Linked DNA regions of Homo sapiens. The protein of the gene in region 2 purifies or fractionates together with the protein of the main gene of each other region. This does not show direct contact. Each region holds a gene or a part of one and is shown on either strand. Other genes may lie near its edges.

What was found. Proteins that work in one complex are often made in the same cells at the same time.
Region 1: the proteins of HSD3B2 (region 2) and MTHFR purify together in Homo sapiens (affinity purification with mass spectrometry; 2 studies listed by BioGRID and IntAct, with this or other methods). This does not show direct contact.

Annotation. Positions count from the first base shown.
Region 1 is NC_000001.11:11,792,465-11,795,964, forward strand, and holds part of MTHFR (methylenetetrahydrofolate reductase (NADPH)), read right to left. Parts: intron 2,885-3,500; coding exon 2,634-2,884; intron 2,400-2,633; coding exon 2,265-2,399; intron 2,075-2,264; coding exon 1,894-2,074; intron 1,626-1,893; coding exon 1,443-1,625; intron 1-1,442. UniProt on the Homo sapiens protein: Catalyzes the conversion of 5,10-methylenetetrahydrofolate to 5-methyltetrahydrofolate, a cosubstrate for homocysteine remethylation to methionine. Represents a key regulatory connection between the folate and methionine cycles.
Region 2 is NC_000001.11:119,413,865-119,417,949, reverse strand, and holds the start of HSD3B2 (3 beta-hydroxysteroid dehydrogenase/Delta 5-->4-isomerase type 2), read right to left. Parts: upstream 2,801-4,085; 5' UTR 2,748-2,800; intron 2,620-2,747; 5' UTR 2,531-2,619; coding exon 2,389-2,530; intron 1-2,388. UniProt on the Homo sapiens protein: 3-beta-HSD is a bifunctional enzyme, that catalyzes the oxidative conversion of Delta(5)-ene-3-beta-hydroxy steroid, and the oxidative conversion of ketosteroids.

The sequences.
Region 1 (3,500 bases), about 110 Mb from region 2:
GCCATGTGGGCGGAATAATGAACTGTGGCGTTGGCACGTCCATAAGCAAAGGGTGAGGGGAGTGGGGACGTGAGTTTCTCAGTCTGGACAGGTCTGAGGGCTATCAGCCACCCCTCTCCCAATCAGTCAGGGAAGACTCCACGAAGAAGCCATTTCTGAACAGCAGCAACTGGTTTGACAGGCCGAGTCATGGGAGAGAGGCCCCACACATTCCATCCTCCCCAGTGCAAGCTGACAATGACATTGACATCTCCTCTAGAACCAGTGCCTATCAGGGATTAAGCTGGGTTTACTCAAACTCATTTGCTAGAATGCTGATAATACGGGAGGCTGGGCACAGTGAGCCCCACGTGAGGAAAGTGGGTTCAGGGAAGTTGAGCACGTTGGCTACTCTGACAGTAAACAGTAGAGCTGGTCCTTAAACTCAGGTCTTTCTGCTCCAGGGCCTGTGGGCCTTAGATCAGAACATAATGTTAACTCCAGCAGCCCTGGGAGAAAGGTGTCAACTCAGGATAGTAACAGCAGCTGCCTTTCAGGGAGTGCTTCCTGCTCTTACCATGTGCCAAGCACGTTACATGCTTTGTTAGGTTTCATGCCCAGAACACAAGCTACATCCCATTTTACAGACGAGAAAACCAGGCTCAGAGAGGTCGAGTGACCTGCCTCCATAGGTCTGATTTCTATCTTTTTTTTTTTTTTTTTGAGATGGAGTCTTGCTCTGTTGCCCAGGCTGGAGTGCAGTGGCATGATCTCAGCTCACTGCAACCTCCGTCTCCCGGGTTCAAGCGATTCTCCTGCCTCAGCCTCCCAAGTAGCTGCAACTACAGGTGCCCGCCACCACACCCGGCTAATTGTTGTATTTTTAGTAGAGATGGGGTTTCATCATGTTTGTCAGGCTGGTCTCGAACTCCTGACCTTGTGATCTGCCCACCTTGGCCTCCTAAAGTGCTGGGATTACAGGCATGAGCCACCAAGCCCAGCCAATCTTTTTTTTTTTTTTTTTTTTTTTTTTTTGAGACAGGGTCTCACTTTGTGGGCCAGGCTGGAGTGCAGAGGCACAAATATGGCTTACTGGAGGCTCAACCTCTCGGACTCAAGCGATCCTCTCACCCCAGCCCCCTAAGTACCTGGGACTACAGGTGTACACCACCATGCCTCGGTCATTTTTGTATTTTTTGTAGAGAATGGGTTTCACCATGTTGCCCAGGCTGGTCTCGAACTCCTGGGCTCAAGTGATCCACCCGCCTTGGCCTCCCAAAGTGCTGGCCGGGTTCCGTGCCCAGCCAGGTCTATCTGACTTAAAGCATGAGCTCCCATCCGCTCCAATCCATGCTCATTCAAAATTTAAGAGCCCAGGAGAGGCAGGCTGCTCTGCCCTAAGCTCTGGGGAACCCACGGGTGCCGGTCAAGAGAGGGGGGCACCCCGTGCCTCCCTACCACACCTTCTGGAAGACATAGCCCCCGCTGGGGCCCCAGCCCACGATGGGGTCGGAGGACGGCTTCCCGTTGATGTTGGGCTGTGAGTTGATGGTGAGGATGCCCTGGCGGTTCACCCGCAGCAGCTCCTCCTTCAGCAGGCTGGTCTCAGCCGCCAGGGGCTCATCGTTCCAGGGCAGGCAAGTCACCTGGGAGAGACGGTGAGCTGGCTGGGGCGACCATCAGGTTTGGCACCCTGAGTCCCTCTCACGGCCCCCAACAAAGACCCAGCCTGTCTTTGCCTCCCTAAGCCCTTCCAGGTGGAGGTCTCCCAACTTACCCTTCTCCCTTTGCCATGTCCACAGCATGGAGGGGAGGGCACAGGATGGGGAAGTCACAGCCCCGCAGCCTGGCCTGCAGCTGGGGTCAGGCCAGGGGCAGGGGATGAACCAGGGTCCCCACTCCAGCATCACTCACTTTGTGACCATTCCGGTTTGGTTCTCCCGAGAGGTAAAGAACGAAGACTTCAAAGACACTTTCTTCACTGGTCAGCTCCTCCCCCCACATCTTCAGCAGCTCCTCCTTGGGGGACTTGCTCTTCAGGTAGAAGAGGTAGTAGTCCTTCAGCTCCCCAAAGGCAGGGGAAGAGGAATTGCCCCTGGCAGAGGGGTGCCCAGAGGTCAGGGCACACTCCTGACAGAGGGCAGTGCCACCACATGCCCAGGAGGCCATTCCTGTAAATTCTGCCCCTGACTCCTCCCAGGTCAACCACAAGCATGCAAACTTCTTCTGCCCTCCCGCTCCCAAGAACAAAGATGTATTTGCAAGGAAGGTCTGCAGGCCCTCACCAGCGGCCGTTAGGGAACTCGTCCCACTCCTGGGTACGGTAGATGTAACTCTTTGGTCTGGAGGCCCAGAAGATGGGACGTACATCTTCCTCTCGGCGCTTGGGGTGGGCGCTGAGAGCCCAGGGTAGGGGACGCCTGGGTGAGGATGGGGACAGAGAATTGAGACAAGGGATTGGCTAGAGGGAGCCGGAAGCAGGGGAGCACCCCTGAGGCTGAGTTCTTCCATCTGATGCCCTCTGAGACTGGAGCCTTCGATGTGCCCAGCTAGCCATGGCACAGACATCCATCTGTACCACCGTGGGGAGCCAGCACTGCAGCCGGGGCTGCTCTTGGACCCTCCTCTGGGGATCTCTGGGCCACTGCCCTCACCTGGGGTCCTCAGTCCACATCCCCAGGCGCTTCAGCACCTCTGTGGTAGCCATCTCGCGGTTGAGGGTGTAGAAGTGGAGGCCTGGCACCAAGCCACTGGCCAGAAGCTCCTGGCACAGGCTCACGGCCAGCTCGATGCCATAGTTGCGGATGGCAGCATCGTTGTCTTTGATTGGCTCAATCACGTCCTTGATCTCCTGTGGCACCTCCAGCTTGGACAGCTTCACAAGCTGCCGAAGGGAGTGGTAGCCCTGTCCAAGACATGAGGGGCTGTGGCGGCTGCTGGCCAGCCCGTCTCCCACCCTAAATACTTCTCCCCCTTCCATCATCCATGCCAACCACAGTGTCAGGCAGAGGGACCCACGAAAGTCCGATCATATTCTAGGAGCACACCTGGGCTTGGCCTGCCGTTTTCTCCTCTTTTTTCTGTTTTTAGAGACTGAGTCTCACTGCTCTCAAACGCCAGGGCTCAAGCCATCCTCCTGCCTCAGCTTCTCAAGTAGCCGGGACTACAGGCACGTGCCACTATGCCCAGCTTTCCCACTTTTTACAGAGTAGAGCAGCTGCCCTAAGCATTCCAGCCTTGGGTTGAGCCAGCCTTTTAGCCCTAGATGTGTCTGTTGGTAACATGGTGTCATCTAACCCAGCTGTTCCCATGCTGCACTGATCATCCGAATCACCTGCCAAGCTCAAGAAGTAAAACACACATTCCGAGGACCTCCCTCAGATTTACTGAGTGAGAACCTCCAGGGGTGGGACCTGGAGATCCACTTTTTGAAAAAGCTTATCAAGTGGTTCTGATGACAGCCACCTTTGGGAAACACTGATTTAAGCAGGATTTGTAATGAGAATTAGAATCCCTTTTGG
Region 2 (4,085 bases):
AGTCCCACTTTATTGGTGAGGAAACTGAGGCTCAGAGAGGTTAAGGGACAGATCTAAAGTCAATTTTCTAGTGAAGGCTCAAACCTGCCCATTCCACCTGCCATTTTTGTACCCTGTACCCCAGGTGCAGGAATAGCTGTTTAGAATCAACTTTTCTGAGAAAGAGTAAGAATAAGCCAGTTTAACTGAAAATGCCCACAAAGGCCAAAGAACAGTGAGAGCGAAATTCAGAATGAAAAATTCAAGGCTGGAGAAATTCCTTCCTGGGATACAGGTGGGACCATTTGCTCTTCTGATGCCTCTGCCTTGTTTTGTCTACTCCCAGCCCCTTCCCACTGTCAGGCAACTCCAAGAAGGCCCTGGAATGGTGGAGGCAGGGAAGAGGCTGCTGGGGAGGAGGTGGGTGTCAGCCCGAGAGTGGAATTTTCTCTGGTTGTATTTCCACCTCTACCTTTTCTACTCCCTTCATCTGCTTCTCCTTTGCTGCCGACTTTAGACAGACTGGCTCAAAGGAATTGCCATTTCATAGCAGAAGTCCAAAGCCGATAGAAAATGACTCTTCCCCGGTGAGTTTCCATGGATCTAGAGAGACCAGAAAAGCGCAATTTTTGATGGAGTCTTAGCTCCCTCCTTCTCCAAGGCACTGTGGACTTGGCAAGTGTTTCATGTAGACTAAATTCAGTTGCTTTTGTGTTGTGTGTTGGGCTGGAGGGAGGCTCAGAGAAGCTGCTAGACAAACTACTACTTAAGAGCACAGAAGCTGCACTAGACTGCCTGGATTCAAATCCAGCTTTGCCGTAATCTAACTTGGGACCTTCGACAAGTTGATTAACCTCTCTGTGTCTGTCTCCTCATCTATAAAAAAGGAGGATAATAGTATTACCCATCTCATAGGGTTGTTATGGGAAGTAAATGAGTCAGCACATGCAAAACCTTTAGCACAGTGCCTGGCACAGAAAGAACACTGAAAGGATTCTCTGTTTTTATCTTCATACAGGCCCTGCCCATCCATTATGCTCCCTGCATTTTCACCATAGCAGAACTCTTCCTCTAGACTGAGCATTGCTTTTTCCTGGTATCAGATGTTAGATTGTAAATATTGCTGAGACATAAGGATTACAAACATTTAATATCAGTCATGTGTTAATATCTGTTCACTATTAGAACAGAGAGTGGAGGAAATTGGACATTTAAAGAGGTCAGAGAAGAGTGAAAGAAGAGGAGAGTGTCAAGGGGAGCTTCTGTGTGAACAGGGCAGGACCTTCTAGGCAGCCAGAACCTGCATGAAGAAGATACATAGTTCCCCCAGTCCCCTGGGTTGGGAGGAAAACATGGAATTGGTTTGGGGCACACAGAGAGGCAAAGGGAGAGACTGAAGACCCACCAAGGATTAGCCCGGGGGTCAAGTGATGAAGCTTCTGGAATGAAGCTCTGGTCTGAGCTCTGCTACACATTAATCAGCTGTTCTTGGCAAGTAACTTTATGTTTCTGGAACTTGATGGGTTCATTGTCCAGTTGGAGGTGACCCCTTTTCTACCTTCCTCACAGGGTTATTTGCACAAAGAGTTACTACAGCAAATTCTGCAGTCAATTTATTTGGAGTATTGAACAACAGATACAAATGGTTTTTTTTTAAAAAGGCTATATATGAGAAATATAAATGAGGCATGTTGGCCTCATACTGCCTTTTACTCTGTCTCTGCTCTGTGCCGTGCACTTGTGCATGCTCTCTTTCTCTCTTTCTCTCTCTCTCACTGATGATCTCTCTCACTTTCACTCTCTCTCTCTTGCTGATGCTCTCCCTCACACTATCTTTCTCATTCATTCTCTGTCTTTCTCATTCTCTGTCTCTGACCTTCTTTCCCCCTCATTTTCTTTCTCTGTCTGACACACACACACAATTACACACACATCCGTACCTTCACTTCCTTTTATTTTGCCCTCACTAAAGATACTAAGGAAGCTATAAAATGAAATGAAGCCTGGGGCAGTCTAGACAGGCAGGACCCACTGGTGAGGTCTCCAGGTAAATGATGTCCTTTGTGAATGTCGCACAGCAATCGCCAAGACAAAAAGCTTCAGAACATAAGAGTTGTAGACAAGAAGGAGAACTCATGTGTGACTCTCTAGAAGAGAAGAAAAGGGGCCTTGAGGCTGACATGGCTGCCTCTCAAGTTCTGCGTCAGGGCCAGAATCCAGTCTCTGGACACCCCATCCAGTATCTTTCACACTATACCATTTTATTCTATTTCCTTTCTGATGACTTTAGATGTGTGACTGGCTTTCATTTGGCTACAACTTTCCTTAACTTGCTAGACAAGGTCAACCTCCCCACACCCATGCAGAGTTTAAGATGGAGCCACAGACCCATGACTCAAGTTTACTTACTAGAAAATTCCTCTCTCAATTCTGGTCTGAAGGCCTTGTCCAAGGCCCTGATCTCCTTCAGTTCCTTCTCTTCCACCAACAGGCGGACGATCCTCTGACCCAGAAGCCCTCCTGCTCCTGTCACAAGGCAGCTCCAGCCCATCGTGGCCAATCCAAAGTAGCAGGAAACACTTGCCAGGAAACAGAAGATGCTGGAGAGCAGATCTGATTCTAGCGTGACCCAGAAGAGGGCTAAAAACAAGAGGTAAAATGGTTATACACTCAGCAGATGCCTTATTTTCCTCCACCCCATTTTTTACAAAAATTCCATGACCCCACAACTGCCAGGAGTAGTTGAAAGAAAAGGAGAAAGCTCTAACCGTAACTTAGATTGTTAAAAGCTGGACAGAGGAGTCCAAGTCCTTACTGCCTCATCCCTGGAGGAAGGACTGGAGCTTTATGCTCTGTGGCTTGTGTCTCAGCCCTTATTACCTTGAACTCCTGCCACATACTCATTGCTCCCTCCTCCTCCAGAATCCCTTTTCTCAGAATAATAGTGACCTTTAGGTTATATCTCTAATTCTTCCCAGGAACAGGAAGAGAAATCCAATCTTAAGGCCACAGTGTGATAAAGAGTCTTGGCTTTAGCCTTAACAGAACACTGGTCAGTTGATACCAGCTGTCTGGGATCTGCAATCTGTGAACTTAAACCAAACTGGGAGAAGTCTCCAAGTGCAATGTAAATGTTGTCCTTGTACAGTAAATCCACCTGGAGGGAGATCTATTTTAGCCCATTATCAACTCTCTGAGAGTGTCATTTGAAACGTCACTGCTGTCTTGCAAAGTTTAGAAATTTTCAATGGTGACAGCTCCAATCACTAAGTTTTATGTGAGGTGACTTTCTTTTCCACCCAATATATCCAAAACCTCAATTGCAATTTTTCCCTGGAGAGCTCTGGGTTCCTAATGGAAGAACCTCATTGAAGGAAAGGTATCTAGTGATAACGAATTAATCATATGGCCTGTAATACAAGTGTGGGGATTTGTAGTTGTATGCCCAATGACTCTAATCATAGATATTTGCACTCATCTTACATTTTTGGCTGCAAAACCATTCTTAGCAAATTGTTGAACTGAAGATGCTATGAATGCTTCTGAAACCTATGCCCCAGTCTGCCCAAACATCACTGCCATAAACTCCCCAAGACACTTTTCTCTACTTAAAAAAATAGAGATGTAGTTTTTTTAAGTAGATGTAATCTGGGCATTACAAGGCCCAGATCTTAAGCGTTCAGTGTACACTTAAGTGTTCATTGTCAATGAACCTTGACAGTTATATATGTCCATGTAAGTACCAACGAAAAGAAGACCACCATTTCCTTCACTCCAGAAAGTTTTATCTGCCTGTTCTTAGTCAATTGCCTGCCCTCCCCCGAGTTTACCTGGTAGGCAATTACTTTCTGATTTTTATTCCCACAGAGTTCCCACTTTATTCCTATATTTTCCTAATTTTTTCTTCTAAGATCTTTGTGATTCTGGATATATATTTAAATATAAAATCATTCTGAACTGAAGTTTTGTTCATGGAGTACAGAAAAATTGACCACTGATTGTCTCTATTGTTTGTTCATTTTTCTATTTCATGATTTTCATTATTTTTATTATTGGCTTAAATGTTTATTAACTTTGGGTTTATTTTACTCTTCTTTTTCAGGGTT